Linked DNA regions of Homo sapiens. The protein of the gene in region 2 interacts with the protein of the main gene of each other region in a pairwise test. Each region holds a gene or a part of one and is shown on either strand. Other genes may lie near its edges.

Region 1 (4,771 bases), on a different chromosome or scaffold from region 2:
CAAATATTCATGGAGCTAGAATTTTTGGCATGCTAATGTCTTTTTACAGATGACAAGGTTGTGATTTGATCCATAACTACGGCCATGACTGCCAGGCTCTTGAAAAGATCTTGAATTCTTTTCACATACTTATTACTCAAAGGCCATATTCCTTAGAACTGTTACATTTATTTATTAGTAACACCTTAATGTAAGATGGTAAAATAGCATCTGATTGAAGGCAGAAAAGCTCTCCTGCCATTGTCTGGCTTGCAGGCATAAGATTTAACATCTTTCTACTTACATATTTTCACCCATGATGGCATCCACTAAACCTAAATCAGTGTCTGGCTCATGAATGAACAAAATATAAGCTCAGAATGGCATAAGAAAACCTTATTCATGGATCCCATCCAAACACAAATTCACAATGCTTAAAAATGAAAAGTAAATCCTGTAATGCTCAAATTTATGTAGTTATCTTAGAAAAAAAAAATATTTTTAATTGCCTGGAGTCCTCATAGCTTCTTGTTAAGCTTAACAAGAGGTATAAAGCCATGACTAAAATATTCACACTCCACTCTAGTCCCTATTTAAAAAAAATAAAAAAGGGAATCACTAGTTTATTCATCTTGCCTAATGACACAGAAGGGCAAAACAAGCACCCAAACAATGAATAATAATGTAAGAGCTCAGACTGTAAAATCAATATGTCAGATCAGCAGAGCTTTGCTTCGTTTTAGTGCTCTCATGTCTGAATGCAGCACAGCTTATCTTCTGAATTATATATATATATATTGGCCTAATTACATAAATATTGACTTTTCCTTATATGAAGTTTATTCTTTCAATCTCTCTGTAATTACCATGTCAATATTTGTGGCTGTAGTAACAATGAATTTAAATCTGTTAATTGTGACTGATAGTGGCATGCTATGAGATAATTCAGTCACTTAGTCTCAGAACACTGATGGCACTAGATAATAAGTGATGAATCAGTAATTCCCTAGGTATATCGTACTAAGGTAAACATCTTTAAAAAGCAATTCTTTCAACCCAGTTAATTAAGGGGATAGTTTTTTCCTCAACTTGTCAGGTTTCATAACGTACGGAAGTAATAACCAGAATGCGACTGGATCTTGGTGTATGACTTTGCCCGCTTTTTTTTAAATGAAACACTTTATCCCTAACTTCATTCTCCAGTCCACCCATTAACAACTTCTTTGATCTGTTGATAGATATCTACACCTCCATCCTCACAGCTGTATGTGTGTATGGAAGATATAATTTAACATTTGTTGCTATTATTCTTTGCTATTTGCTATTTCCATAAAGGTCCTAATTCCTGATCTCACTTACATGTGGAATCTAAAATAGCTGAAGTCATAAAAGGGGAAAGTAAAAGGGTGGCTGCCAGGGGATGGATGTGGGGAAGGGAGGGGAGATGGTGGTTGGAGGGTACAAAGTTTAGTTAGACAGGAGGAAGAAATGTTTTAGACCATTGCGCAGCATGGTAACTATCATTCATAATGTACTGTATATTTCCAAATTGCCAAGAAGGTACATTTCAAATGTTCCCTCCACAAGAAAAATGCTAAGGATGTGAGGTGATGGATATGCTAGCCAGCTTGACTTTATCATTCCTCCTGGTATACTTGTCAAAATATCACATTGTACCCCATCAATATCTATAAAATTTGTCAAGTAAAAATGAAAATAAATTTGAAAAAGATCTTAGGCCTACTTTATTCTAATGTAAAATATGATCTGTAGAAATTCTACTTTTAAAAAATATTTTATTCAATTATATCCCCTCAACTGGTTTTATTTTCATGGGAAAAGTTTTCAGTTACTGAAGGTGATAAATCTCTGAAACAAGAACTAATCCCATACCTAGGATATATTAATTAATTAAATGTCTTCACTTACTTACCAGTGGCAGAGAAATGTTCCAAAAATTTTAAAAAGCTAAAAATCTTTTCACTTTGCTCTTATAATATTTGAGAATTTTCACACAAGAGCTTGAACTCTCCAATCTAAGTAGGACAGAAATACCTGTGTCATATTAATTATGTTAGAGTTAGGTGAACATAGAGAATGGTCCCCAAAAACAATGCTGTCCACACTTTGAGTTTAAGAGTTGTTCTAGACGTATTATGGTGAAGTGGTCATGCATCACCTGTGCTTTCTTATTTGCCTCTACAGGGATGCCAGATGATATGAACTTCAGTGATGTAAAGCAAATCCATCAAACAGACACTGGCAGTACTTTAGACACAACAGGAGCAGGATGTGCAGTGGCGACTGAATCTATGACATTCACTCTGATAAGTGTGGTGATGTTACTTCCCGGGATTTGGTAACTGAACTCTTCTGTCCTGACATACCTTACTGAAGTCTCGATTTCTTCTCTCTCTGCATATGCCTGGAATAAGAGATCCTTTTTCAATGTAACAATTATATTTATGAAAAGATATGTTACACTAACTTCTCAGAAGCCAAGCTGAAATATTCATAAAGTCCCTAAAACTCAACGTTTAAATGACACACTTTAAAAATATGTCTTTTTTCAATCTAACTGAAAACCTTCTTAACTTCTAATATATTAAATCTGAAGATGTGAAGGGCACAGAAGTGACTTTGAATAAGAAGAATTTAGTGTATCTGTAATTTTATTATCAATTCCAAGCCCCTTCCTTTCTAAATTAAAAATGTTTTCATTTGAAAGTGTATTTGCCAGACAATGAAAACAGTATGCAGTATTTCTTAAAGTATTGAAATTAGAATATCATGAAATAAATCAAAACATACAATGGCAAGTAGTATGCATGCATATTCAAGAGACTCTTCCATTTTTGCAAGCTGTAGAAGGAAATGTCTGAATGTCTATAAGTTATGGGGTAGATTCTTGAGAAGCATTTCATATAATTTCACTGAAGAACCTTGATAATTTTGACCCACTGTAACTTAGCCACTGATGAACCTTAAAGCTGAGTATTTTATTAACACCTGATTTGTATTCCATTATATTCAAAATGCATCTTTGGTATTGTGCCTCTGCTCCCATCTCTCTCTTTGCCTCATAGATTTAGCTATGTTGGGAAGCACATGCTTGCTCTAGGAATATCTCCAATAAAGCTGTTAACTATTTGGTGGAAAAATTTGAAGAATATTTGTCATTTTCTTCTGGCAAAAATGCTATTTTCACCCATTTTCAAAATATTATGTACTACTTTTTAAAGCCTGATGTTGTACAATTGGCTACCTTTGCATTTCTAAGGTTCCTATGAATATCTGCAGACATGTACAGAAAAGATGATATGCAACACTTTAGCTCTTTCCTATTTGCTCATTAATGGAGCTGCAAACCAACAGTCCCTAATTTCTCAGTTGGGATAAGTTGCCTCAATAGACACTAATAGGATATGTATATGGCTATACTTGAGGAAAAGAGAAGTTAGTTTTTATTAATAAGTATCACATCCAGTCTACAGAGAGAAAATATAATTAATACAAAGTCACAGAATAGAAAAGGGAATTGCTGACCTCAAATAAAAAAAAACAAAAAAAAATTTGAAATGACTTCTGACAAAGACGTAAACAAGACACAGCCAAATGCAAACATTAATAAGGTAAAATCCGTTTCTGCTAGTCAGGAAACAATATATGATCAAACCTTGTTCTCGCTTAAGTTCTCAATTAACAAAATGATCTAAGGATGGTTAGTTTAAATCACAACATTTTTAAGCTGCCCAATCAGGTTTTACCCTCCATTCAAACATGCCTCAGAACCGTAAGTGTTATTCTACCCATCAGTTGTGGATGCCATTTTCCTAGGCTTCCATTCCACACCTAACATTCCCTGATCCATTCAGTTAATAACTCATTTGCACTCACCTTGACACACTCCACAAATTACAAACTTAACCCTATTTTGAAAATTTTTTACTTCAACCTCAGCTCTTCATTTAAATCAGTCTTGGAAAAAAGTGATACTAAGGCACTCATTTGCTGCCCTCCAGCCCAAGTCATGATTGGCTTGCTACGGCAAAATTTCAGACCCAACTTAAGAGGAATTTAATTCTAAAGACAAACAAACTGAAGAGCATGCTTTAGCAGTCTAAGATATATGGATAAAATTAATTGACAGAAGATAATTTCAGATATGGCAAGAAATGGACAAAAGCAGAGTGGTAAAGTCAATACAAGAAATGATTATTTTTTTTTAAACTAAGTTTTACATGCTCAGATGGGTGTTATCTGCAGGTGGGCACTTTGGGGACTATATAAGCAATAATGGTGTTACTAGAGCTTAAAACACTGGGGTTTTCAGAATTTCTTTAAAAGCCTAAGGCAAAATTGTTAATATTCTCAGTAAGGATATACTTATCCATTAACACTTCCCATTCTGTGACATTTCATATCTACATAGTTTCTTATGAATTGCAAAGCTCTTTCAAATGAGAGAGAGTATCTCATTTGGACTTTCTTCGCCCCCTCAAAGATAGGCTTGATTTTCAGTCAAATAAAAACAATAATGCTGATTTTTTATATGGCTCAGAATTTGCTTCTGGAGAGTTTTTCATTAATAAGGTCTAAGAAAGTTTTGAGCAATGATACAAGTGTTGGATATGTGTCTACTTTCCAAGATTATTTAATAGATTACATCAGACTGAATGTATGTATTTAAAAATATCACACACATAGTCACATTTTATGCTGGTGTAATTTTTAAAAGAGCCATATTCTTGAATCCCGGAGTTATTTTTATGAGTTTAAGTAATCATAAAAC
Region 2 (8,654 bases):
CAGCTGCCCAGGCTGGAGTGCAGTTATGTGATCTCGGCTCACTGCAACCATGGTCTCCTGGGTTCAAGCGATTCTCCTATCTCAGCCTCCCGAGTAGCTGGGATTACAGGCACCCGCCATCATGCCCGGCTAATTTTTGTATTTTAGTAGAGATGGGGTTTCACCATGTTTGCCAGGATGGTTTGGAACTCCTGACCTTATGTGATCTGCCCGCCTTGGCCTCCCAAAGTGCTAGGATTGCCCAGCCCAGAGCACTATTTTAAACCTTTTGAGAATGCAGAATGCTTTTCTAAAACTGTGATAAAAGTACTAGATTTCCCCTCCCTGCTTCATAACCTCTGTCACCTACTGAACTCTTACTATTTGGCAGGTGGTTTTTATGCAAAATCTCATTTAACCCTCACTATAGCTTTTAGAGAGGTTAAGTAACAAGTGGCAGAGTTGGTATTTATTTGAACTTTGGTCAGTTGTACTCCAAAGACCATGTCTTTATATTATATCAAGGAAGTGACATCATGATGTGTAAGATAGAATGTGGGAAATATATAGCACACCAAAATTACATGTACTTAGTTAGGTAACTTTTTTTTTTTTTTTTTTTTTAAGATGGAGTCTCACTCTGTCACCTAGGCTGGAGTGCAATGGGGCAATCTTGGCTCACTGCAACCTCTGCCTCCCGGGTTCAAGCGATGCTCCTGCCTCAGCCTCCCGAGTAGCTGGGATTACAGGCATGCGCTACCACGCCTGGCTAATTTTGTGTTTTTAGTAGATACAGGGTTTCTCCACATTCGTCAGGCTGGTCTCAAGCTCCCAACCTCAGGTGACCTGCCGACCTCGGCCTCCCCAAAGTGCTGGGATTACAGGCATGAGCTACCGCGCCCAGCCACTAGTTAAGTAACTCTTACAGATATGAACAAAACTGCTTCAGTCCTTCAGCCTTCTGGAGCCAGCATAGTGCATCAGGTGGAAGGGAAGGAGCTGGCTTATAAGTGGGCAGTAGAGGTGGCAGAAGGAGGCACAGCCTGTAGTCTGATAACAGAATCTGGCTCTCTTAACAACTGTTTGACACTCAGAGAAACACCCTGAGGAGAACTGGGTTGAATTAAGTATTGGCAAGGTGTGGAGGAAGGTACTCTTTTTCTCTGATCTCTAGGAGGGCTCTATTTCCTGGGATGTCAGGCTACTCCCATGTCCTCTCTTCATGGTTTTTGAACGCTCCCCTTCCCTAGATCATCCCGTAGAGTATTTGCTGTAAAATTATCCCCATTTGCTCCCCTATCAAAATAAATAAATAAATAAATAAATCCAGAAAAATAAAAACTCTTATTTCTCAAAGTGTAGTCTGTGGTTTATCTGTATCAGAATTAGGGTGTGTGGTATAATAAAAAATAATTTGGCCAGGCGCGGTGGCTCACAGGGGTAATCCCAGCACTTTGGGAGGCCGAGGCGGTGGATCACCTGAGGTCAGGTTTAATACCTGTGTTCCGCCAACTAGAAAAATAAAAACTCTTATTTTTCTAGTGCAGCACTTTCACTTGGGTGTGAGAAATATTGTCTGTTATTAAGTCATACTCTAGTTTGAATGTCTCATAGTTTCATTCCCAGGAATTGTTGTTTCACTCTAGTAAATATCCATGCAGAGTAGAACAAAGTGTTTTCAGATTTCAGGTGTTCATAACACACACAAAACTACGATGAAATCATTTGCTGTTTTTATCTGACTAAATCTGGAAGGAAAGTCTTTGTAAACGTCAGAGTCCCTTTTTCATTAAAGGGAGGCTACCACCAGTTTGCAGCTGTGATGAATGTAAAAATCCCTACCGTAAAGGGTAAGGGTCTACCCCATATAATTCTATAAACCTCATAGGACTCAAATTTCAGGGTCCATCTAGATCAGGCTGTTGACTTCTAGGTGTCTTATCAGATGAACTGGATGCTGTAACCTTTGTTAGGGATCCGGTATCTCAGAGTCCCTAAGTTGAAGGTATCAAGATCCCTATCCAGTTGCTTTATTCTTCTAGGGTTAGAGCTAATTGGCTGGTGTAGAACTTCCTACTCTTGACTACTATAAAGTAATCCAAGCACCCATCCCTGACAGATATTTTAAACTTCCCACCTTCAGTGACTGTCATCTCCATAGCAAAGCCGTTTGTCATTAGGAACTGAGGTATGTTTAGAAAAGGTACCTAGGCAACAGTGTTAACCAGAAAGTTTATTTTTGTGCCTTCTCTCCTTTTACCCAACTTCATTTTACTTATTAAAATGTCAAATAGATTACAAATGGAGAGATGGTATAACATCGAGGTGAGGAGGATATACTTTGGGTAGACAGTTTGAGTTTAATACCTGTGTTCTGCCAACTAGAAGCCATGTGATATGGAAAGTTATTTTTCTTATCTGTGAAATGGGTGGTGAAATCTACTTCATATGATAGTAGGGATTAAATAAGGGAAAACTGAAAAACAGCACAGTACCTCAGTATAAAAGTTAGCTGTTGTGTATCATATTAGTTTTGCTTCTAGTTTTAGTGTATTTAACATAAATTACCAGTGTAGGTTCAGTTTTCATGGTTGTATGAAGTTTCAAATTGGTGATAACATTGCCTGTGAACATCCAGAATGGTGTTTCTCAAAGTGTAGTCTGTGGTTCATCTGTATCAGAATTACTTAGGGTGTGTGGTATAATAAAAAAAATTTGGTCGGGCACGGTGGCTTATACCTGTAATCCCAGCATTTTGGGAGGCCAAGGTGGGTGGATGACCTGAGGTCAGGAGTTCGAGACCAGCCTGCCCAACATGGCGAAACCCTGTCTCTACTAAAAATACAAAAAATTAGACAGGTGTGGTGGCAGGCGCCTATAATCCCAGCTACCGGGGAGGCAGAGGCAGGAGAATCACTTGAACCCAGAAGGTGGAGGTTGCAGTGAGCCGAGATTGTGCCACTGCACTCCAGCCTGAGCAACAAGAGCAAAACTCCGTCACAACAACCACCACCACCACCACAAAATATATATATATATATATATATATATATATATATATATATATATATATGGCAAGTCGTGTTCTTGCTAGTTTCCCCCTTCCTTTGGATGTATTAAGTTGTGTATAAATTCGTTTGTTTATTGGAGTTGGGGAGTGCCAAGGGCAGCAAAAAGTGATAACTTCTTTGGACTAATAGGCAGAATCAAGAAGCAAGATAACCAGAACTTATATTTGTGTCATCTTTGATGTCTACTTTCTAGTACCTTATGAAATATGTCTCTAAGAATTTAGTGTTTCTCTAACATTTGGAGGATTGCTGCTAACATTACACATTCAAGGGAATTCTTTTTTTTTTTGGAGACTGGGTCTCTGTCACCCAGGCTGGAGTGTAGTGGCACGATCTCGGCTCACTGCAACCTCTGCCTCCGGGGTTCGGGTAATTCTCCCGCCTTAGCTTCCCGAGTAGCTGGGACTACAGGTACATGCCACTATGCCCAGCTAATTTTCTGTATTTTGGGTAGAGACTGGGTTTCACCATGTTGCCCAGGGTGCTCTCCAACTCCTGAGCTCAAGCTATCTGCCTGCCTCAGCCCCCCAAAGTGCTGGGATTAGAGGCACGAGTCACCCACACCCGGCTAAAGGGAATTCTTTTGGTTTGTGATGTCTATATTTTGCAATGAAGATGAGACAAAGTAGAAACTATTAGTTTTATGTCTTGGCTAGTAGAATTTACATTTAATTAAGTTAAATTCTGTAAGCTTTGATTGAACTACTCTGTGTTATTAACAGTGTAATACAAAGATGTAAAACACACAAGGAATTCCAGAGACTCACAAACTAGCCATGTAAGACAGATACATAAGCATATAATGTGATGAGTTTTCTGGCTTAGAGAGTGAATAATTCCACAGGGGATGGGTATAGAGGTTCCCTCAGAGGAGATGAATTTTGAATTGGATTACAAAGGGAAGAACAGAACTTTGCAGTTGGATCTTAGAGGTGTGAAAATAAGCCTATCATATTCAGTTCTTTGTGGCTTGAAATGTAGGGTAATAGGGTGTTGGGATGGGGAGAGCGGAAATAGTAGAGAAAGAAGGGAGAGACGTAAGTTTTCAGAATGACTTTGAATAGAATATATACATTAGAAAGTATTCCATGGTTAATAGTATGTACTCTGGAGCCAGACTGTCAGGGTTCAGACCCTGGAGTTGCCATTTACTTGCTAGCAGTTTAACTTTAGGCAAGTTCACTTTACTTGTAAAAAGGGGATACTAATGATACTTACCGTAGATAATTGTTTCAAGGAATAAAATCTTTGTAATCTGTGTGTGGGGTATAGGAATCTCAATATTAGATATTTTATTTTCTTTTTTTTTTTTTTTGAGATGGAGTTTCACTCTTGTTGCCCAGACTGGAGTGCAATGGCAGATCTTGGCTCATTGTAACCTCCGCCTCCTGGGTTCAAGCGATTCTCCTGCCTCAACCTCCTGAGTAGCTGGGATTACAGGCGCCTGCCACCACGCCCAGCTAACTTTTGTATTTTTAGTAGAGACAGGGTTTCACTATGTTGGCCAGGCTGGTCTCGAACTCCTGACCTCAGGCGGTCCATCCGCCTCGGCCTCCCAAAGTGCTGAGATTACAGGCATGAGCCACCGCGCCTGGCAGATATTTTCTTTTTTTTTTTTTTTATCGGAGTCTTACTCTGTCGCCCAGGCTGGAGTGCAGTGGTGTGATCTCGGCTTACTGCAACCTCCGCCTCCCAGGTTCAAGCCATTCTCCTGCCTCAGCCTCCTGAGTAGCTGGACTACAGCCGTGTGCCACCATGCCCGGCTGATTTTTGTACTTTTTTTTTTTTTTTTTAGTAGAGACGGGATTTCACCATATTGGACAGGCTGGTCCTGAACTCCTGACCTCGTGATCTGTCCGCCTCGGCCTCCCAAAGTGCTGGGATTGCAAGCGTGAGCCACCACGCCCAGCCAGATATTTTCACATCATTGTCTTCCTTCTCATCCAAGGCTTTAGGCACTCACAGTTATTATTACTAGTATTTATATTCTTAGAATAAATAGAATATATATATATATATATATAAAATGAGTAGAGTGTGACTTGAGATAGGAGAAACTCACAAAGGCATTGATCACCTGAATTTTGGGGGAATGGCAGTGGGAATGGCAAGAGTAAAAAAGATTGAAAAGACTGATTTGGCAAACTGTTGGATGTAGGGATTGAGAAACGGGGAGTTGAGGGTGATAGTTTGGATGGTGGTTCTAATTGATAACAGTGAGGAGAACAGATTTGGGAAAAGAAAATGAACTCAGTTGTGGATGTATTTGGTTTGTGCTCTCAGGAACTTCAGATAATTTTCTAGATTGTGGCAAATAACATTTTAAAACTCAGGGATACACTTTGAACTTGGGGGTAAAAATTAGGACTCATTTATTGCAGTTCAGTAAACATTCATTTAACATGTACATCATGCTAGGCATTTACATGTGGGCAACACTCGAAATGACTAATCACTAGGGTGGATAAAATGATAGGGAAAATGCTGAAGATAGAACTCTGGGAGGAAACAAGCATTTTTAAGGGTAGAAAGAAAAGCCAGTGAAGAAACCTGTGAAATGTGGTAGGAGGAGAAATGGTAGAATAGTGTTGAGAAAGCCGAAAAGAAAGATTGTATTTCAAGGAGAGATAGGAAAGATTTTCAAATGTCGTGAAGTAGGCTGAGCCTGGAGAATAGGCCTTTGAATCTGGCATGTAGATTAGTCAATGATCTGTGAGAGAAAGTAGTTTGAGAAGCATGTTGGGGGCACAAATCAAAGTGGAGGATGAGGAAGTAGAGGTAATGAGTATAAAGTACTTTAATGTGGACGGAAGGAAAGTGAAAAAACTGGGTGAAGGGTGTGCTTAAGCTTCAGTTATTTACAGGATGTGGAAAACTTCAGCTTGTTTATAGCTTTTAGGGAAAGGATTTATAGAATGAAAGATTGTAAATTCAAGAGAAGATGGTAAATGTAGATGGAGCAAGGTTATGGAAAATGCGAGAGGCATGGGATCCAGTACATGGTAGAGTCTGGAAATCTCAGAAACAAGGACATTTTTTTCTCTGAGGAGGGGAAGAGGTAAGGGCGTAGGTTAAGATGATAGGTAAATCAGCAGTAGAAGGGAAGGAAGTTGAGAAAGTAAGCTACTTCCTTTTCCAAACTACTTGAAGGCAAAAATAGCATGCTTGTCTTTATACTATATTTTTAAATTTAAATTTATTTTTTTAAACTACGTGTGCATAATTTAAAATGTCAAATAGCACTGAACTTATTATCAAATAAAATGTTCCCTTGTCACATCTTTCTCCACTCCCTCTTCCTGCCCCCTAGAAACAACCACTTTCAACTCTTAGAGGTTTCTTTGGCTGTTTACCTACACATTTCTTTTTCTTTCTTTCTTTTTTTTGAGACAGAGTCTCGCTCTGTCACCCAGGCTGGAGTGCAATGTCAGGATCTCAGCTCACTGCAACCTCTGCCTCTTGGGTTCAAGCAATTCTTATGCCTCAGCCTCCTGAGTAGCTGGGATTGTAGGTGTGTAGCACCATTCCCTGCTAATTTTTGTATTTTTAGTAGAGGCAGGGTTTCCCCGTGTTGGCCAGGCTGGTCTCGAACTCCTGGCCTCAAGTGATCCACCCGCCTTGGCCTCCCAAAATGCTGGAATTACAGGCGTGAGCCACCGTGCCTGGCCTACACATTTCTAAATAATATGCTATACTACTGCTTTAGGAGCTGTTTTTTTTTTGTTTTTTTTTTTTTTTTTTTTCAGTTTTATGTATTATGTAGTGACTTGCTACTGTGGAAAATGTACACTTAATTCTCTAATCACCATCCTACCGAATCCTTCCATTGTAGGTGTAGCATCTTTTGGTTAAATCAGTATTAATGTTATTATGACCATGTAAATATTGATTACAGTAGAGCCTTGTTGGATACTACAGTTATATTTTCTTTTTAAATAACTTTTTGTGGTCTTTGAGGTTAAAATTGTTTTTCATTTTGATTGCTTCGTTTTCTATGTACCTATCACAAATTTATCCCTAAGAAAGTTTTGATAATGGAAACTTCCTGTAAATAATTAAAAACATAGCAGAGAGTTACTTTTGTTTATTTTCCTTGGAGATATGTCTTTTGGAGTCCCTCATCCTCATATTCCAAATTAGCTCATTGATCTCTACATCTGTGGCACAGCTATTAGAACCGGGAACTTCCCTGGGAATTCTCTTCACTTCTCTCCTGTTTTGGATACTCTAATTTCTGGATGTTGTTTTGCTGGAGTGCATTTTCCAATAATTTTTTGAGAGAGGATACATGGGAGGTATATGTTATACCCAGACCTTGAATATCTTCAGTGATGTCTTTATACTTGCCGGTTTGACTGGGTATAGAATTAGAATTGTAGGTTGGAAATAATTTTTCCACTGGGTATTGAAAGCACTTCATCTTCTAGCTTTTGGAATTGCTGTTGAGAATTTGGATGCCATTCTGATTCTTAATCCTTTGTTGGTGATGGTGTCTGTCCTCTGTGGAAGGGTTACCACCATTCTGAAATGAGGATTGCCTTGTTGTGAGGTGTTTCATTGTTTGTTTTCTGTTCACTGTGCTGGTTACTCTGTGGGCTTTTTCAGTCTAGAGACTATTTCTGGGAATTTTTCTTTTATTATTTCTCCTTTCTGTTATCTTTGTTTTTTGTCTTTTTGGAAGCTGTGTTATCTAGTTGTGGTATATCTTGGAGCACATCTGTAATTTAACAATTTCTGTCTAGTTTCCGTATCTTTATCTGTTTGCATTTCTTTTTTATTATTTTTCAAAATTTCAAAATATATTTTCTTTTAAAAAATAGAGACTGAGTCTCGCTGTATTGCCCAGGCTGGTCTGGAACTCCTGGCCTTAAGTGATGCTTTTGCCTTGGCCTCCCAAAGTGCTGGGATTACTCACGCCTGGCCTGTTTCTTTTTTTTCTTTCTTTTTTTTTTTGTTTGTCTGTTTTTGAGACAGAGTCTCGCTGTCGCCCAGGCTGGAGTGCAGTGGCGAGATCTCGGCTCACTGCAGGCTCCGCCCCCCGGGGTTCACGCCATTCTCCTGCCTCAGCCTCCCGAGTAGCTGGGACTACAGGCGCCCGCCACCTCGCCCGGCTAATTTTTTGTATTTTTAGTAGAGACGGGGTTTCACTGTGTTAGCCAGGATGGTCTTGATCTCCTGACCTCGTGATCTGCCCGCCTCGGCCTCCCAAAGTGCTGGGATTACAGGCGTGAGTCACTGCGCCCGGCAGCCTGTTTTTATTTCTATCAGATTTATTTATTTGAGACGGAGTCTCGCTCTGTCGCCCAGGCTAGAGTGCAGTGGAGAGATCTCGGCTCACTGCAACCTCCGCCTCCCGGGTTCAAGCAAGTCTCCTGCCTCAGCCTCCCGAGTAGCTGGGACTGTAGGCGCGCGCCACCACGCCCAGCTAAATTTTTTGTATTTTTAGTAGAGACGGGGTTTTACCAAATTGGCCAGGCTGGTCTCGAACTCCTGACCTCAGGTGATCCGCCCGCCTTGGCCTCCCAAATGCTGGGATTACAGGAGTGAGCCACAGCGCCCGGCCTATCAGATTTATTTTTATCTTGTATTCGTTTTATTGATTTT
Region 3 (9,570 bases), about 120 Mb from region 2:
CAAAGTGCTGGGATTACAGGCGTGAGCCACCGCGCCAGGCTTTCCTTTCCTCCCCTCCCCTCCTCTTTTCTCCTCCCTCCCTCCCTCCCTCTCTTTATCTTTTGACAGAGTTTCACTCTTGTTGTTCAGGCGAGAGCGCAGTGGCACGATCTCGGCTCACTGCAACCTTCACCTCCGGGTTTCAAGTGATTCTCCTGCCTCAGCCTCCCAAGTATCTGGGATTACAGGCACCACCACCACGCCCAGCTAATTCTTGTATTTTTAGTAGAGACGGGGTTTCACCATGTTGGTCCAGGCTGGTCCCGAGCTCCTGACCTCAAGTGATCCACCCACCTTGGCCACCCAAAGTGCTGGAATTACAGGCGTGAGCCACCGTGCCTGGACTAGAATAGCTTTCTAGAGGTGGGACTGCAGATACTAGGGAATGTGAATTTAAATTTATGAGAGATACCAAAGGATTTAAAAAAAAATTTTTTTTTGAGACGGAGTCTCACTCTGTCGTCCCGACAGACTGGAGTACAGTGGTGTGATCTCAGCTCCACTGCAACCTCCGCCTCCCAGGTTCAAGTGATTCTCCTGCCTCAGCCCCCTGAGTAGCTGGAATTATAGGCATGCACCACCATGCCCAGCTAATTTTTGTATTTTTAGTAGAGACGGGGTTTCACCATGTTGGTCAGGCTGGTGTCAAACTCCTGACCTCAGGTGATCCACCTTGGCCGCCCAAAGTGCTGGGATTACAGGCGTGAGCCACCGCACCGGCCCTAGCAAGGATTCTTAACTTGCAATATATGGTTAAGTTTCAGAAATTATACATAAAATGTTTGTCCATGTGTGTGTGTGATTTCTAGGGAGATCCATAGATTTTGTCAGATATTTAAAAAGTTTCAAGTCACTGGGGTACAGGGGGCCGGCACTTCACTACAGCAGTGGACCATGTGTAGTATATTTGCAGGTTTTGAGCAATTTTATCAACCAGGTACTTGTCCAGCAAGGGTCACTGTCTGTGCAGCTACCGGACCACCTGCAAGGAGAGCAGATGACAGCATTCCCACGTATCTCCTGCCCCTAGAGTAAAGGTGAAGATCCATACAGACCACAGTCATGGTACCACCTCCTCTTTAGGTCTGATTAATTTGCTAGAGTGTGCCGGGCACGGTGGCTCATACCTGTAATCCCAGCACTTTGGGAGGCGGAGGTGGGCAGATTACCTGAGGTCAGGAATTCAAGACCAGCCTGGCCAACATGGCAAAACCCGGTCTCTACTAAAAATACAAAAATTAGCAGGGCATGGTGGCAGGCGCCTATAATCCCAGCTACTCGTAGGCTGAGGCAGCAGAATCACTTGAACTCAGGGGTGGAGGCTGCAGTGAGCTGAGATCTCGCCACTTCACTCCAGCCTGGGTGGAAGAGCAAAACTCTGTCTCAAAAAAAAAAAATTTTTTTTTTCCGCTAGAGTGGCTCATAGAACTTAGGGAAGCACTTGCTCATTTTTACTGGTTATTTTAAAGGATACAAACAAACAGCCAGATGAAGAGATACATAGGGTGAGGTCTGGGAGGGTCCCAAGTGTAGGAGCTTCTGTTACCATGGAGTTGGGGTGTGCCACCCTCCTGGCACGTGGATGAGTTCTTATTCACTTTCCTGTCAGCCTCCACCTGTTCAGCTCTCCAGAAACTCTCTGAACCCAGTCCTCTCAGCATTCTTTGTCCCAGGGTATGGGGTAGGACCCTCTCTGGAATGAGGGTCTTATGACCCATGATCAGAAGGGCAGGGCAAGATTAGAGTCCTGCCTTGGGGCAGGTGAAAGAGAAGCAGGAAAAAGTCAGAGAGATTCTGTTTCCTGAGGCCTGCTCCTGAGTCCTAACACTCTCAACATTATAACGAAACACTGTATAACAAGGGCTATGGGAGTTATGAGCCAGGAACCATGGATAAAAACATATATAAATTCACACATATATTAACATCACATCTATCAACGAGGTTGAGCATTTTTTTCATATGTTTATTGCAATTTGCATTTTCTCCTTGGTGAGCTACCTATTTTATGTTGTATATATTTTCCCACAGTAAAAGAGAAGGAAATGATTTACAGCTCTACATAGTATCCTGGAGAGACAGTCATGAAAATTGTTAAGAAAAAAAAAATCCATGTTTCTCTGAATAGTAAGATGTGTGCGTGTGTGTGTTCACAGAAAAAGGAAAGGGAGGATATAAACCAAATTGTTAATATTAACGACCTCAGGGAGTATGCAGTATTTATTGTTTGGCTATAAGAAGGGGCATGAATTTAGAGGTCAGACCAGGCTCAAGGCCCTAGCTCCACTACTGATTTGATGTGTGACATGGACGAATAACATGCCAGTTTCTTCATCTGTAAAACAGGAAGAGAAATAGAGCTGTTGTGAGTAGTAGATATTACAACAGTGCCTGTCACAATAAAGTGTAGCTATTGTCATCATATTATTATCTCCTTCAGTGTCTTCTTCACTGTACCATATCTATTCTTCCATTCAGGACTTCTTTATTGGGACTGTAAAAAGATTTAAGTATCAAAAGAGAAAAACATAGAAATAAAAACAAAATACAAAAAGCCTAATAATGAGGGGGTTCACATAGTACTTGTTTCTGATCCCACTAGAACTAGCTTGCCTCTGAGGCCATCCGAGATATCTAAGCTTTGGCCCTAAAGAACTGCCACAAATTTGGAGACGTGGCCTACATTTCTTTCTTCTTGGTCTGTCTTCACATAGAAGGTGCTCTTAAGACACACAGCCTAGGAACCTCCTTCTCAACACCTCCACACCTTCACTTGCTCTTTGCTATCCCTACTGTCACCCTCCTCTTTTCTCCTGCCACATCAACAGCTTCTTGCACTGCAAATGTTTTCTGGAACTCTCCCCATGACTGACAGGCTAATAAGGAGTTATTTTATTTGCTGTTTGAGTCACAAATACCATTTTTATCCAATCCCAACTTTGCCTTTTTTGTAGGGTTACTGCTACATTAATGTTCTCTGGCTTGAGAAATCTGAAGCCTTTAGGCAGTGATTAGATTTTTCCTACGTGCTTTACAACACTTCACATTCAACAAATTCATTAACGATAAACAGGAAATAAACCAACAATTTCTCCTGGTTTAGTTCACCCTTAGGACACGCATCTATGAAATCAGAAATCTTATTCCTGTCAGAACAGGATGGCCATGTGCTTCCCTGTTAACAAAGAAGTCTTAATTTTATTAATTACAATGCTTACGACTAAAACAAAGCAGGACCTCTTTCCATTGATTTCACATGATCGCCAGAGTCTCTCATTTCTCTGCTTCCTTCTGCCATCTTTTTTTTTGAGACGGAGTCTTGCTCCGTCGCCCAGGCTGGAGTGCAGTAGTGCGGTCTCAGCTCACTGCAAGCTCCACCTCCCGGGTTCACATCATTCTCCTGCCTCAGCCTCCCAAGCAGCTGGGATTACAGGCGCCCGCCACCACGCCCAGCTAATTTTTTGTATTTTTAGTAGAGATGGGATTTCACCGTGTTAGCCAGGATGGTCTGGATCTCCTGACCTCGTGATCCACCCCGCCTCGGCCTCCCAAAGTGCTGGGATTACAGGCGTGAGCCACCGTGCCCCGCCCCCTTCTGCCATCTTTATATTCGTTCATTTTCCGTTTCCTTCCCTTCCTTTCTTGTCTCTCCCTCTTGAACATTTCTAAGCACCTTGTGTGTGCCAGGCATTCAGTAACAAAGCTTGAGCAAAACAGCCCACCTTCTCATTATCATGGAGCTTACAAGCCTAACTGGGAATTGGAGACATTCATCAAATAATCACCAAATCTATAATTTGAAACTGCACTTAGTGCCATGAAATAAAACACAGGCCCCTGTGACAAATCTGTGTAGATGAAGGCTTCATCCAGGAAGTGGTAGCTGAGCTGGAGTGAGAAGGATAAGGAGTTAGCCAGGCATCTCCCCACATTTAGAGCGCCGAGTGGGCAGAGACCAGGATTGTTATAGCATTTGCTCCTGGGTCTGACTCACAGATGTGCTCATAAATATTTGTGGAAGGGAGGAAGGGACAATACGAATAATATAAAATAAATGAAAATGTGTCCTCCTTTGTTTTGATACTATGAAATTAATAAAATTAACTGCTACTAACTAAAAAATCCAAGTAGAACACAGAAAGGAGAGTGTGGCACAAGGTAAGGTTGCAGAAGTAGCAGCCAAATCACACTGGGGCCTTGAGTATGTAGAGATTTTAGTCCGTATCCCGACAGCAATTGAAAGCCACTGAAAAGTAATTCACAGCAAATATAGTTAATTTTTTTACAGCTTACATTAAAACAAATTATGTACTAGATACTGTGCTAAAGACTCTACTTGCACTATTTGAATCCTTGAAACAATCCTATGATGTACTATTAATATTCCAATTTTACAGAACGAGGATACTGATGCATAGAGAGGTCGTGACTCCAAACCCCTACTCTTACTGTATTACACCTACACACTATTCACAAGTGAGAGAAGTAGGTAAGCAACTATGTACAGCTAAATCTCATCTCCTTGGCAGGCCTAGCCCCACTGTGGAGTTGGTAGCACAGGGGTATCAGGATTTAATGAGCCAATCATTGACTTTACGCTCCTTGTTCTGACTCCCTAATAAAATAACCTTCTAGTTATATTCTGGCTTCCCATATAGATTTTTCTGCTGGGAGATAATGCACTGACCAGCCTACACACGCATTTTGTTCCAGTTGACAATTTTATTACACATTGTAAGTTAATAAATTGGCATTCTCCTTTAAAAAATAACAAAAAAATTTAATAGTCTTATACAGTTACTTTCCCATGAAGGGTTAGCTTGAAAAGTAAAAAGCAACGAATAAAAATATCATCACCTATTGTCTCTTTTGTGGTCGAACCTTTTCTTGCTGCCTGCTTTGAGCGACCGTGGATGTGGTCACTGAGTCTGGGGAGGAGCCCTTTATCTTCTTTGTGGATGCCCCCAGCACAGCCCAAGTGCTTCCTTTGTTTCCCACTGAGCCTTTAGCAAATCCCACCTTTCCTCCTGCACCGACGGAGAGGATTGTTCTTGGGAATGCACCTTGTTCTACTGCCGCCAGCAGTAGGCAGCTGGAGACTGTTACTAGGGGTCTCCTTCACCTCCCCAGCGTAAAGTACATCCCATGCTAGGAGCAGGCCGTTCCCTGAGAACCTCATTAAACCCGGCGTTCTTGTCACGCGCTCCGCTCAGGGCCACCAGGCCACCAGCCCGACCAGACCTGCACCGAGGCCCAGCCCCAGAACAGGCTGCAGAGACCCCCGCCCCCAAGGCGGGCTCCCTCCAAACGGGACTCCATACTCCTTGCTGGCTCAAGTTTTGTTTCGCTCTTTTTCCCTGTAATTCCTTTATTGGGCAAAACTGGGACAAACGCAGGTGGACATTTTAAAGTGAAAGCTTCATGAAACAGCCCATTCCACGCCGTCAAGAGATCTGCTTAAGCACATTCAAGGGAACGAATAGCCCCCACCCACCAAAAAAGAAATGTTCGTTCCATATTCTCCTGAACAGAGGATTGAAACATCGATTCCCCCCCCCTTCAAAGGAACAGGAAGGCCACGGGGCAAGGACGGACTTGGGAGCGGCCTCCTTTCTCTCTGGAGGGAAAGGCTGGAGCGCTGCCTCCACTTTTAAGTCCACGAACCACGAAGGGTGAGGATCCCTCAGAAACTTTAGCGCAGGGGAGCGGGCAGGAGGGCGATTGTTTAAATCGATGGCAGCACCTTCATTAATCTGCTTTCCGGCCATCTTCAGCAGAGCCATTCACCAGGAAACGACTAGAAGGTGGGCCTGCGCCCCTCAGATATCCCGGGGCCGGCAACGAGCCGGGCAGGGACGCCGAAGGAAGGCCGTGAGGAGCCCTCGCTGGCCGGCCAAGATGGCCACCTTCACATGGCCGACCGCCACCGGCTCCCTGCCACCCGGCATCTAGAGGCGGGACGGCCAGAAAGACCCCAGCCGCAGCACAAAACCTCCGCGATTCCCGCCGCCTCCGCTGGGGGACGCGACCTCCGGGAAAGCTATCCCGGCCAACGGTCGGAAGGGAGGTGCCATGTCACCGCACAGGGGAGCGGGTCCAGCAAGCCCCAGTCGCTTTTTCTCCCACATCAAACAAGGAAGAGCAATCCCCCACGTCTCCTCGCGTCTGCATTTTTCTCCTAGCTCTAGCGGCTCAAGATAGCTGAACGGTCTCTGGAGGGCCGGATTGCCACGGCACCTCCCGCGGCCGCGCAGTGTGGTTCAGCCCGGACTCCGCGGGGCGAGCTGCCCTTCCTCCCCCGACCCCCGCGCAAGTGGTGCATTGGCGCGCGGCGCCGAGGGGCGGGGCCCGAGCCGGGCGCGCGCGGGCGCTGCTCTATAAATACCGGGCCGCACCGCCCGCTGCTTCGTTCGCTCCGCGCCGCCCGCCTGCTACGAGTAGAACGCTGTCCGCAGCTTGCGCATTTCGCAGCCGCTGCCGCCTCGCCGCTGCTCCTTCGTAAGGCCACTTCCGCACACCGACACCAACATGAACGGACAGCTCAACGGCTTCCACGAGGCGTTCATCGAGGAGGGCACATTCCTTTTCACCTCAGAGTCGGTCGGGGAAGGCCACCCAGGTGAGGGGACGGCCTGAAGCGAAGCGTGGGGCGGGGCAGAAGGCAGCGCCAAGGTCCGGCTGGCTGCGGCCGGCCGGTGGTGGGGCCCGCGCGGGTCGTCCTCGTCCGCCGGGTGATGGAAGAGCGGCGACCGCGCGCTTTCCTCGTGGCGCCGCCAGGGCCTGGCGCGTGGCCGCCGCTCCTCTTCCCCCTCCCCTCTCCACCCTTCCCTTCCCCCCTCCCTTTTCATTCGGTCGCGCGCCTAGGCATGCGGAAGGTTCCAGAAAACGTGAAGGGCGGGGGCTGTGGTCGCTAGTGAGTTCTGGCCGGGAAGGGAGGGCACTGTTAACCCCTCCCGGCCCTGCCGTCTGACAAACCTGGAGTGGGCGACCCGCCCCGCGTGCTCGCGTCCGGCCCTCGGGAGCGCGCGCCCCGCATTGCAGCGGCGACCACGTGTTTGCCGCATGTGGTATCTGGGCGAGGGGGAGCCGTGAGCCTCCCCGGCTGTCCTGGCCCTCAGTTTGAGGGGTGGGGGGCCTATGCCTTGGGACGTCGTCTGGCTCCACTGCCTCAGTGGTTAGGTCTTGACTACACACTGGAGAATACGCACATGCCCTTCGGCGGATATGGCCTTGCCTCCAAGGTGACGGCCTCTGACTAAATATAGCTCATGTCCAAGAAGGCAGTCCTTATTTGGACCCCTTGTGAAAAGGATGGGAAGCATGAATTAGGAGCTGCCATTGCTTTGGGTTCGCATTTAAAGTCTTCGGTGCAGGGTTTTACTTGAGGCTTTGTCCGCTCAACCGCCATTATGGGGATCAATTGGCACGTGAAGGAGGAGTAAAGCTATATTTCCAGGAACTGAAAATCTCAGCCTGAGCATATCGGCTAGTAAAGATGATTATTTGGCTCTTTTGGCTGTTTCTGCCCTTAGGATGACCGCAGTAGTTATCTATCTGGTGGCTTTAGGGTCTGGTCAGTTTACTGTGCCCATGATGAAATCCCACAAGTAACTTAGTGGTATGAGAGGACAAACCCAGGATCTTGATGAGTGCTGAAGGTTAGCTGTTACACCAGTTAGTAGTAGACCGAAGTTCAGAGCCTGCAGTCTGGCTTCCACATTATGTTTGGATTCTGTTTTAGGCGGTTATAGAAAATTCAGAAAAACGAACTTGAATTAGGGAGATATTTGTTCTCCCTCCTAACAATAGATGACAAAGCAGGGAGACATGGATTCGGAATACGTTTGAGCATCTTCTACACTGTTGAGCTTTTGTTTCCTGCGCAACTCCTAACAGCAAAATCAGATAATTGCCATTTTAGTCAGAAAATGCTTTTCATTTAATTGTTTAATCGAATTATCTTGTTGCTCATTATAATTGGTGTTCCTTAAGATTAGGGAAACTGGCCTACCTGTGGCCTCAGTTCTACCAGACTCCCAGGTGCAGAGGGGTTTGGTACAGTTGTGGAAGTGAATATGATATAGGGCAAATTCTGTTCTTTAAAGGATATAGGACTAACAGTTCACCTTTCTGGTGATTAGATTTATAATGCAAACTTTGAATTTTAGGAGGAAAGTGCAAACACAATGAATTAAGATGTATTAAGCATGTTTTTTAAAATCTCCAAAGATTTTACAGATAGTAACAGGGAGGGAGCTTGCATACATACATACATACTTTGTTTAAAGTTAAAGAAACTGAGCCAGGAATTTCTCTTTTCCAGATAAGATTTGTGACCAAATCAGTGATGCTGTCCTTGATGCCCACCTTCAGCAGGATCCTGATGCCAAAGTAGCTTGTGGTAGGTTCAGAATGTGCTTATCAACTGGTGGAAAGATAGCATAAAAATTATTTTTATAGAAGTGATGTTTGAGTTGAATGTCTCTTTTTATTAGAAACTGTTGCTAAAACTGGAATGATCCTTCTTGCTGGGGAAATTACATCCAGAGCTGCTGTTGACTACCAGAAAGTGGTTCGTGAAGCTGTTAAACACATTGGATATGATGATTCTTCCAAAGGTGTGTTTTAATGATTTTGCTCATTTTTTTCTAGGTAACAGCTGTGAGGTTTGAAGAAACTCCTAGAATGTTCCTGCTAATCCTAAACTCCAGTTGTATCTTACTATACACTAAGCCCTATTCTGTTCATTCTCTAAAAGGTCCGATGGTTTAGGTATATTTGATTTCTTCAGCAGTGTTTAGAATTCCAGATAATTGCTGTAAACAGCAGGTATTTCTAGGACGTAAACAAGATGTTGTGTTTTTTGCTTATAGGTTTTGACTACAAGACTTGTAACGTGCTGGTAGCCTTGGAGCAACAGTCACCAGATATTGCTCAAGGTGTTCATCTTGACAGAAATGAAGAAGACATTGGTGCTGGAGACCAGGTATCTTGGTGTAGAGGCTGTTTTAATCTCTTCTAACATTAAATTCTGGAGCTTGATCACATTGGTGACTTTTCTTTCTTTAGGGCTTAATGTTTGGCTATGCCACTGATGAAACTGAGGAGTGTATGCCTTTAACCATTGTCTTGGCACACAAGCTAAATGCCAAACTGGCAGAACTACGCCGTAATGGCACTTTGCCTTGGTTACGCCCTGATTCTAAAACTCAAGTAAGTGATGATCATAAAGCTTGGTTGTCTCATTTATTACATCAGCACAGAAGATCCATAATTTTGATAATAGCTAACTGGAAAAAATAGCATTTGTTTTCCTATATTGTAACTTCAGGTAGAGAAACAAATACAAAGTTATTGTTTGGTGTGATGTTCTGATGACCTGTGTTGCCTTCAAGGTTACTGTGCAGTATATGCAGGATCGAGGTGCTGTGCTTCCCATCAGAGTCCACACAATTGTTATATCTGTTCAGCATGATGAAGAGGTTTGTCTTGATGAAATGAGGGATGCCCTAAAGGAGAAAGTCATCAAAG
Region 4 (8,654 bases), on a different chromosome or scaffold from region 2:
GGCCCAGCCGTTGGCTCCACCCAAGGCTGCCAGGGAGCCTCACGAGATGCTGCTGACGATGAATATTTAACGCTGTGAGCAGATGCTCACAGTATGGGGGGTGGTTATAAAATAGCAGCCAGGACACAGCCACACATTCCTACAATCACACATGCAAAGGGAGAAGGCGGCAAGCACCGGCCCGGTGTACCGAGGCGGCCCACTCGGGCAGCAGGGCGCCGGCCGGACTGCTCTGCTGTTGACTCCAGTTTTCTAGGACAAGCGCATAATTGTACAAGTTTAAATAGAAATGAAACACAGGGAGTTTTTAAAAGGCTGACTGGGGCCGGGCCTGGTGGCTCACGCCTATAATCCCAGCACTTTGGGAGGCCGAGGCAGGTGGATCACTTGAGGTTAGGAATTCAAGACAAGCCTGGTCAACATGACGAAACCCCGTCTCCATTAAAAATACAAAAAATGAGACTGGGCGCAGTGGCTCACGCCTGTAACCCCAGCACTTTGGGAGGCCAAGGTAGGTGGATCACCTGAAGTCAGGAGTTCAAGACTAGCCTGGTCAAGATGGTGAAACCTCGTCTCTACTAAAAGTACATAAAATTAGCTGGGTGTGGTGGTGCGTGCCTGTAATCTCAGTTACTTGGGAGGCTGAGGCAGGAGAATCGCTTGAAGCCAGGAGGCTGTAGTAAGCCAAGATCGCGCCACTGCACTCCAGCACGGGCGACAGTCAGACTCCATCTCAAAAAAAAAAAAAAAAAAAGCTGATCGGATGGGACCATTCCCCCTCCAGCTGGCCCATGTGCTGGCCCCCTCCCCAGGCTGTCCCCTCCCCGGCACATACAAGTTCTCTAACTCCCGGACCCACCCTGTCCAGCTAAGAGCTACCAGCACTGATTCCCCAACCCAGGTCCCCCAGATCAAGAGTAGAGGCAGCACAGTCAGGTATGAGGGACACAGGGGGCACTGTCCTGGAGGGGCGGGGAACAGGTGCCCCTGGCTAGGCACAGGGGTGATGCCGACCACTCTACCCATCAGTGAAAACATTCACAGGCTGCCATGGGAGGGGGACCAGTGGGCAGGAAGCAGAGCAGGAGGCTGCAGCCAGCGGGCAGGTTGGGGAGCTGGGCTGGGCAGGGCAGGGGGCCACAGGGGATGGGAGAAGGACTAGCGGGACATGGGGGTGGCTGCTGGCAGCCCCCCATCTGGTAGCAGTGGGCCCATCCCTCCTCTTCAACCTGAAGGCCAAGACCTGGGGCAGAGCTGGCGGAGTCCCCCTGTTCCCCAACCACAGGTATGGGAAGTGCCAGCGGGCTGAGTGGGTCAGACTACCCCACATGTGGGACAGTGACACAGGACGCTCCGTGCCCATCCAGGCCCCCAGTGTGCAGACGGACAGATGGTGGGCCTGGGCGGGCAGCAGGCCTGGCTGTGGAAGGCAGACGGCCACTTGCCTCCTGCACTTCAGTTTCCTCACTGACCCCAAAAATCATACCAGAACCTCAGGGGCGCTGAAGCCCTCGGGGCAAGCAGGGTAGCCCCCAGCCTTCCCCGGGCCCACCATTCTCGGGTTCCAGCCTCTGCCGCCCGCGCCCAGGCTACTGCGTCCCTCCTCCTGGGCGCACCATGTTCTGGCCACAATGAACTCCATTCAGCCCCATGAATGAGCCCTCTCTGGCCATCGGCCTCTGCCCTCACTGCCCTCTGCCTGGAATACGCTCCCCTGCCCCCTCCTCTCTGCCTGGCTTCTTGAGAGTCACCCTCGGGTCTGGACTGAAACGCTGCTGCCTCCAGGAGGCCTTCCTGACTGCTACCTCCTCACAAATGTAGAGTAAATGGCTCCTGCTACTGACAGCTGCCCCTGAAAGCCCTCCGTGTGCCATGAGACTTATCACCTGGCACTTCTGTGCTGCACCTGAGCAGGGACCACGCTACCTTGCTGTGGCCTGGGCAATGCTGGCCCAAGGGCTTCAGAGGCTGAAGGGCACAGGTGCCTACACACAGCACAGCACATGCCAGACCGGCGGCTCTTGGCTGGTACCAGGGCTATCTGCCTCTGGGGGCATCTGGAGTCGTGGTGACAGGGGCTCCACTCTGCACAGCAGGCGGGTGGGCAGGCAGATTCCTCGGGGTGCCCGCTGCGGGCCAAGACCCTGGAGGAGCAGCTCTGTGCCCGGCCAGCATGTATCCTTCCTTCTGCCCCACATTTCCTGACAGCCTCTCTTCCCAAGTACCCTGACAGGAGGGTCAGGCTCCCTAGCCGGACTCCCCAGGTGGCGCAGGCTGGAAAGGGGTGGCGCCGGCTTCCTTGCCGACAGGCAGGACAGGGTTCCCAGCCTGCAGAGGTCCAGGCCAGAGCCTCTGCTCAGGAGCAGGAGCCAGTCGGCTCGGGAGGAGGGAAGGCAGGCCGCTGTGCGACCTTGGGCCGTTCTCCGCACTGTTCTGGGTGCCAGCCCCGTCCCCACACACGGCACCTCCCACTGGAGCCGATCACCTACAGCCTGAGGCCCCTGCAGCCTGCTCTGTGGCTCTGTCACCCCCTCCCCCAGCCCAGCATTCCGCACCGCGTGATTTATGGCTCCTGTCCGCCTGGCGCGGTCTCCATCCTGGAGCCGGCCGGCGGCTATTCCGGGGAAACAGACCAGAGCGGTGGGCCTCACGCTGGACGGTGGGTCACAGCCAGAGGAGGGAGTGAGGGAGAAGCCGGTGGAACTGGGTCCTCCGGAGGCGGCCCCCGGGCAAGGCCAGCACCACAGAGTGCACCCTGGGGAGGGACACAGCCCAGGGTCAGGGCGGACAGATGGCATCTCAGGTCCTAAAACCATGGGGACCACTGCTTCGGGGCCAGGGGCTATGCTCCAGGAAACTTCTGAGGACCGAGGTGGCCCCCAGGGAGTCCCCCAAGAGCACGGAATCCAGGAAAGGAGGTTCACCTGGCGGCCTGAGATGGAGAGAGAGCCAGTGGGAGAGAGAGGCAGGGTGGGGATGGCCTCTTTGTTCTGAGCCGCCAGCACAGGCACACTGGTGTAGACAGGGGAGCAGGCTCTCCCGGAGATCAGGTGACCGGGGTCCCTGGTGGCTCAGGGCACAGCGATGTATTGTGGGACGGAGCTACTGGTCCCCGTGCAGGAAGGAAGCTGGTCAGCCCCGTCCCCCGCCCTGGACCAAGCCTGCCCTGCCGCTCCCAGGAAAGCCCAGCCTCCCTGTGATGCAGGTCCTTCCCAAGGCCCAACCTTCAGAGACAGCCAGCTCTGCCCAAGAACCTGGCAGGGGGAACAGCTTCCCTCATGAGAGAGCAAAGGCTGGGAAAGTCAGTCCGATGGAACTCAGGCCAAGACCCTGAGTCCCCCAGGACAGGTGCCACTGGGCCAACCTGCTCCCCAGGAGGCTGCTGCTAGACACCTCCTGCAAGAGAAAAAAGGTGGAGGCGGAGCCTCACTTGGAAGGCGGAGCCTCAGGCTGGAGGGAGGAGCCTCGGCTGCCGCAGGAACCACCGACAGCACCTTCCTCCCTCCTCCACTTCCTCCATCCTCACCTGGAAGCACAGCCCCTCCAGCCTAACCTCACTAAGTCCCAGGGCTGCAGATGGGAGGGGAAAAGCAGCCAGTTCCCCTTCCCCCTACCCCCATCAACGCTGCCTCCCTGGGCAGGGGAGCGGGGGCCAGCTGGCACCCAATGGACTGAAGCGTGCCAGAGAAGGGCCCTCAGGCCACAGCAGGGGCCAGGCAGGTTGCTGGGTCAGCAGGGTGGGAGGGGGCATGCACAGGGTTCTGAACCTCGTGGCCTTGGTCCTGTTCCCTGCTGCGTGCCCACGCCTGGTGCCCATCACGCACCCACCCAGCAGGCGCTCCGATGTTTACTGTGCGAAGGAAAGAGTGGGGGCAGGGGAGGGGAGGCAGGAAGAAGAGACGGAGAGACCTCCAGGCACACAGAGGACTTGGTGAAATCTGAGCGCCTCAAGGCACAGGTCCGCAAAGGCCCAGGACGTTCCGCTCCCTATCTGGGAGTCCCAGAGGCTGCACACTCTCTCTGCCCTGGGGGCTGGGGCTGCGGAGGCCTCCCTGGCCCTGAGCTCAGGGCTATGGCTGAGGCAGAGACTGGGCTCAATGCCCACCTGCAGCCTGAATGGCCACGGCTGCTGGGGAGGCACCAGGGGCCTGTCCACACTGCTGTGGGCTATGAGGTCCTGACACACAGTTCCTGCTCAGTCAGTGCTTGCAGACAAAGACACGAGAGAGAGAAGCGTGGAGCCCAGCACCTCTCCTCCGCCTGGGATCGCCCTGAACCCCCAGCACGCCCGGTGCACACAGCCTGGCAGTGACCTGAGCCCACTGACCAAGGACACTCCTGCAGGCTGCCAGCGAGGAACCAGAGCCCGGGGGAAGGATGCCACTGGCCAGCCCCCTTTCCAAGGGGAATAAGCAGGGAAACCAGGCTCCCAGGTGGCCCTGGTCACCCCTGGCCCTGGCAGTCACAGCCTGGTGTGGTCCCTGCATGCGCCACAGAGTCTGTGTGAGCAACGGACTCTGTGGGGGAGATGGCGAGGCGTGTCCGAGGTTGGGTTATAAAAAGGGCTCCAGCTCCCAGCTTGGAGGTGCACACTCGCTACCCTAGGGTGAGGGAGCCACCAGGCTGAGGACGCCCAGGCAATCCGTGCAGGAGTCCGCACCATGAGGACCTGGGGACTGTGGCCAAGAGCTGGCGAGGAGCTGAGGCCTGCCAGCCACCACACAAGGATGTGCCTGCTCCAGCCCTGGTCGAGCCTCCAGATGAGGTGGCTCCAGCCTGACTGAGCCTCATGAGAGCCCCCAAGCCCCAATGCCCCGCAACACAGCTCACAGGTTCCTGAGAGCTAACAGACGCCCCCTGCTTCCAGTGGCTCCATTTCGGGGTAACTTGTAACACAGCAAGGGGTGACCAATATCAAAGATGGTCCCTTTGCTTCCGAGGAAGGACACCCCTGGCCACTGTGGCTCCCCGCCCTGGCTGCGCCACAGAGAACATCACTCGAAGTCGGCTGTGTGGCTGGGCTGGGCTGGGCGACGGGGCCTAGGTGAAGCCTCCAGTCGCAGCCTCCCCAGGGTGACCACTCACCTAATTCGGTGGGCTTCAGCAGCTCATCCAGCATATTAAAGAACGGCAGCTTCACCAGGCGGACTTCTGGCTTGAGGGTCTTGGCGGGCAACCGTCCCAGTCCGTTTAAGTACTTTCCGTAGAGCACGGGGTAGTCAATATTGGGGCCTGCCAGCGGAGTCCTGGGCACAGCGCCGGCCCGGTCGTAGGTGGAGTGCATGGTCAGGGGGTCCAGGGGCCGGTGCGGCTGTGGGGCAGGCTCCGAGTTCTTCTTGGCGTAGCGGGTCTCGTACAGCTCCTTGATCTTCTTGAACAGCTCAGGGCTACAGTCAAACTGCACCAGCTGGAGGGCCCTGGTGACGAGCTCGTGCTTCAGTCCACTCTTACTCCGGCCCACGAAACCCAGGAGCATCTGAAGGTCGGAGACTCGAAAACTCATCACCATGTTCTGAGGAGGAGCAAGCACACACACACTCAGAGGACACAGCTGCGAGGCAGGGGACTCCATGGAGGCCAGGCCCCGATGTGGGGGCCGTGAAAGACACCCACTCGCCAGGAAGCGCCAGCCTTGGCTGGGGCTGGTGGAGTGCCCTGCCCCTACGGTGCCCCCTCCCAGCAAAGCCCTGCCCCCTCCCTCCTCCTCATCAAACTTTCCCCAGCATCGCCAACGCAGCAAAAGCGCCTCTGACTAGGCCCCCCCTTCTATTTTAGGTTCTCTTTCCCTGTCTTCAGCCTGAAAGCATCCCCAGGGCAGGAACTGACAATTGTGCTTTACTTGTAAACAGCCTCTGCCAGTGCCTTACCGGCAAACACCAAATGCCTCTCTGACCCTCAGTCTCTACGTCGGGAGGATAATGACATAAAGCACTGGCTGGGCGGGCGCTCAACCCATGTCAGCCACAGATATGTTTTCCCTTCGGTCTCGCCAACGGTAGCCACAGTTTACTTAGTACTAATCACCTGCCGGGAACCAAGCCGGTCATGTGATTATATATTTAACTCTGATCCTTAAAACACCCCTGCTAGGCTGGTGTGTGAGCTCTGTCACAAATGAGGAACTGTCGGCTCAGAGGTGGCAGCGCCAAGATTCGAACCCAGGCCTGGCTCTGAAGCCAGGGGCGGTTCTTGCTGCCACACTACCCTCTGGATGTCAACACAGGGCTGGGCCTGTGGGGGCCTCCGAAACATCTGCTGATCATCCCAGGCAGGGTTTCTCCTCCTTGGCCCTGTGGACACTGGGGCCATCCTGGGCTCTGTGTGGTGCTAAATACCCACAGCTCACGACAACCAAACACACCTCCACACCCCACACACCTCCACACCCCACACACCTCCACACCCCACACACCTCCACACCCCACACACCTCCACACCCCACACACCTCCACACCCCACACACCTCCACACCCCACACACCTCCACACCCCACACACCTCCACACCCCACACACCTCCACACCCCACACACCTCCACACCCCCCACACCTCCACACCCCACAGCTCCACACCAAACACACCTCCACACCCCACACACCTCCACACCCCACACACCTCCACACCCCACACACCTCCACACCCCACACACCTCCACACCCCACACACCTCCACACCCCACACACCTCCACACCCCACACACCTCCACACCCCACACACCTCCACACCCCACACACCTCCACACCCCACACACCTCCACACCCCCCACACCTCCACACCAAACACACCTCCACACCAAACACACCTCCACACGTTGCCCTGAGTCCCTGGGGGACCGGTCCAAGGGGAAGATAGCAGCCACAGGGGCTGTTGCAGGACCTGGGTCAAAGCGACAAATGAGGCTTGGCAGGACCTGGCCCTCATCGCCTGGCCGGGCCTCTCCAGCGAAATAAAAACCAAACAGCAGAGCCCAGCTGACCCTGGTGTTTGAGGTGGGGTAGACTGGCAGTGGCCTGACCTCCATGAGGGGTAGGACCCTGAAGGGGAAGGAAGGCTCCTCAACAGGCTGCAGAAGCCAGGTGTCCTCGAGGGATGGGCTGGCAGGGTTTCAGGGCCACCCACCCTTAGCCCTGAAGCTGGCCTGGGATGAATGAGATGTGGTGGGAAACAGTAGCTTCCAGGAGGAATGGGGAGAAAGCTCAAGCGTCAAGGGTGTTAAGGAAAGCTGGCGGGTACCCGAAGAAACCAATAAACCATTCAAACTCCACTCGAAAGACCCTGAGGGTCGAAGCCAGAGGCAGTCCCAGTGGGGTATGTAAACTGCAGCCTCCGTGCCAGGAGGCGCTGAGGTTTCCGGCTCCTGGCTGCCCCAGGGTGAGACCAGGAGCCTAGCCGCACATTTCAGCACCAAAGCTGCAGCAGCCGGGGCCCACTGTCGGGTCCTCATCTGTCAGCTCTGATTTCTTCCAGCTGTATCGGGCCAGGGTCCTGTTGGAGACGGAGAGGCTGTCCAGGCTCAAAATGACAGGGACACACGTGCAGGCGGCCCAGCCCTGCCCAAAGAGCCTCGGGAGAAGCCTCTTCCCATATCAGGGCTGCGGGGCCCCGTGACTGTAAAGAATCGGGATGCCAGCGTCTTGCTCCCTACCAGGCACCAGCAAGGCCTGTGTCGCTAATTTCACAATGAGGACACCCATCGTGTAGGTGAGGAAACCGAGGCTCACAGAGGGAAGAGGCTGGCCCAGAGCCTCCCTAGTACATGCGTGGGACTGGCATCGGCCCCTCGGCCTCTGGCCTCCCAAGGGTGTTCCCGTCTGCTGCCCGGGGGACCCTCACTCACCAGCACACTGGCTATGGGGACCTGCATGGTCTGCTGGGCCTGAGAGTCAGGGATGCTTTGAAAACAAAAATGCCTCATCTCCCTTGGCCTGACTTCCTACCTTGTGCAGAAAACAAAAAGGCTTGCAGACAAGATGTTTCTTCTGGAAGTGGCCCAAAGCCTTAGCAGGGAGAGACGATGTCATGTGGACACTTCACACTGGCAGACTGGCCGAAGGCAGGTGGGCTGGGGAACCTGCTGACATCCTCGCACCCCGGGAGCCCCTGCCCCACCCAGGCTGGACAGTGGAGCCGCAGCTCCCGCTTCCCGGAGCACACCCCTTAGGTGGCCATATGTTCACGACTCAGATTTCCCAGCAGCTGCCACCTCGGAGGAGCCTGCCCTTGACACTGGAGGGAGTGCGGGGGGGACAAGCATTCAGGAAGAAGCCCCAAATGCCCCAAGATCACTTCCTGCCCTGGCTTCAAGCTGACCTGCTTGCCGTCAGAGCTGTGTTTATAAACAGTGCCAGGCCCCGGCAGCTTCCAGAGTTTCAACTCCAGGCTTGCCTGGAAGTCGCATGGGGAGACATCAGCCGAGACACAGCAGCTGCGCTGAACCTTTCCTCCAGCATAGGCCCCTCAGAGCACCGGGGGTAGCTCAGGAAGGCGCCTCTCTCCAGGAAAGCGGAGATCTGTGCGAAACGCTGTGGACTATTTCAGGGAGCTCACAGACACCCCTGCCCCAAACCCGCCTGCAGGCCTCAAGCTGAGAGTCTCAGATTTCAAAGTTCACCAACAAACCCCCAACATTCGCCCCTCCGAGCAGTCTGTGATGCA

What was found.
Region 1: the proteins of FAM117B (region 2) and GPC5 interact in binary tests that used the Homo sapiens proteins (3 or more experiments, as listed by UniProt).
Region 3: the proteins of FAM117B (region 2) and MAT2A interact in binary tests that used the Homo sapiens proteins (3 or more experiments, as listed by UniProt).
Region 4: the proteins of FAM117B (region 2) and PIAS4 interact in binary tests that used the Homo sapiens proteins (3 or more experiments, as listed by UniProt).

What each region holds. Positions count from the first base shown.
Region 1 is NC_000013.11:92,864,098-92,868,868, forward strand, and holds the end of GPC5 (glypican-5 precursor), read left to right. Parts: intron 1-2,184; coding exon 2,185-2,342; 3' UTR 2,343-3,140; downstream 3,141-4,771. UniProt on the Homo sapiens protein: Cell surface proteoglycan that bears heparan sulfate.
Region 2 is NC_000002.12:202,637,292-202,645,945, forward strand, and holds part of FAM117B (protein FAM117B), read left to right. Parts: intron 1-8,654.
Region 3 is NC_000002.12:85,532,721-85,542,290, forward strand, and holds the start of MAT2A (S-adenosylmethionine synthase), read left to right. Parts: upstream 1-6,447; 5' UTR 6,448-6,567; coding exon 6,568-6,658; intron 6,659-8,362; coding exon 8,363-8,440; intron 8,441-8,534; coding exon 8,535-8,657; intron 8,658-8,912; coding exon 8,913-9,025; intron 9,026-9,108; coding exon 9,109-9,252; intron 9,253-9,434; coding exon 9,435-9,570. UniProt on the Homo sapiens protein: Catalyzes the formation of S-adenosylmethionine from methionine and ATP. The reaction comprises two steps that are both catalyzed by the same enzyme: formation of S-adenosylmethionine (AdoMet) and triphosphate, and subsequent hydrolysis of the triphosphate.
Region 4 is NC_000019.10:4,009,781-4,018,434, reverse strand, and holds part of PIAS4 (E3 SUMO-protein ligase PIAS4), read right to left. Parts: intron 8,488-8,654; exon of another isoform or gene 8,021-8,487; coding exon of another isoform or gene 7,937-8,020; intron 5,513-7,936; coding exon 5,086-5,512; intron 1-5,085.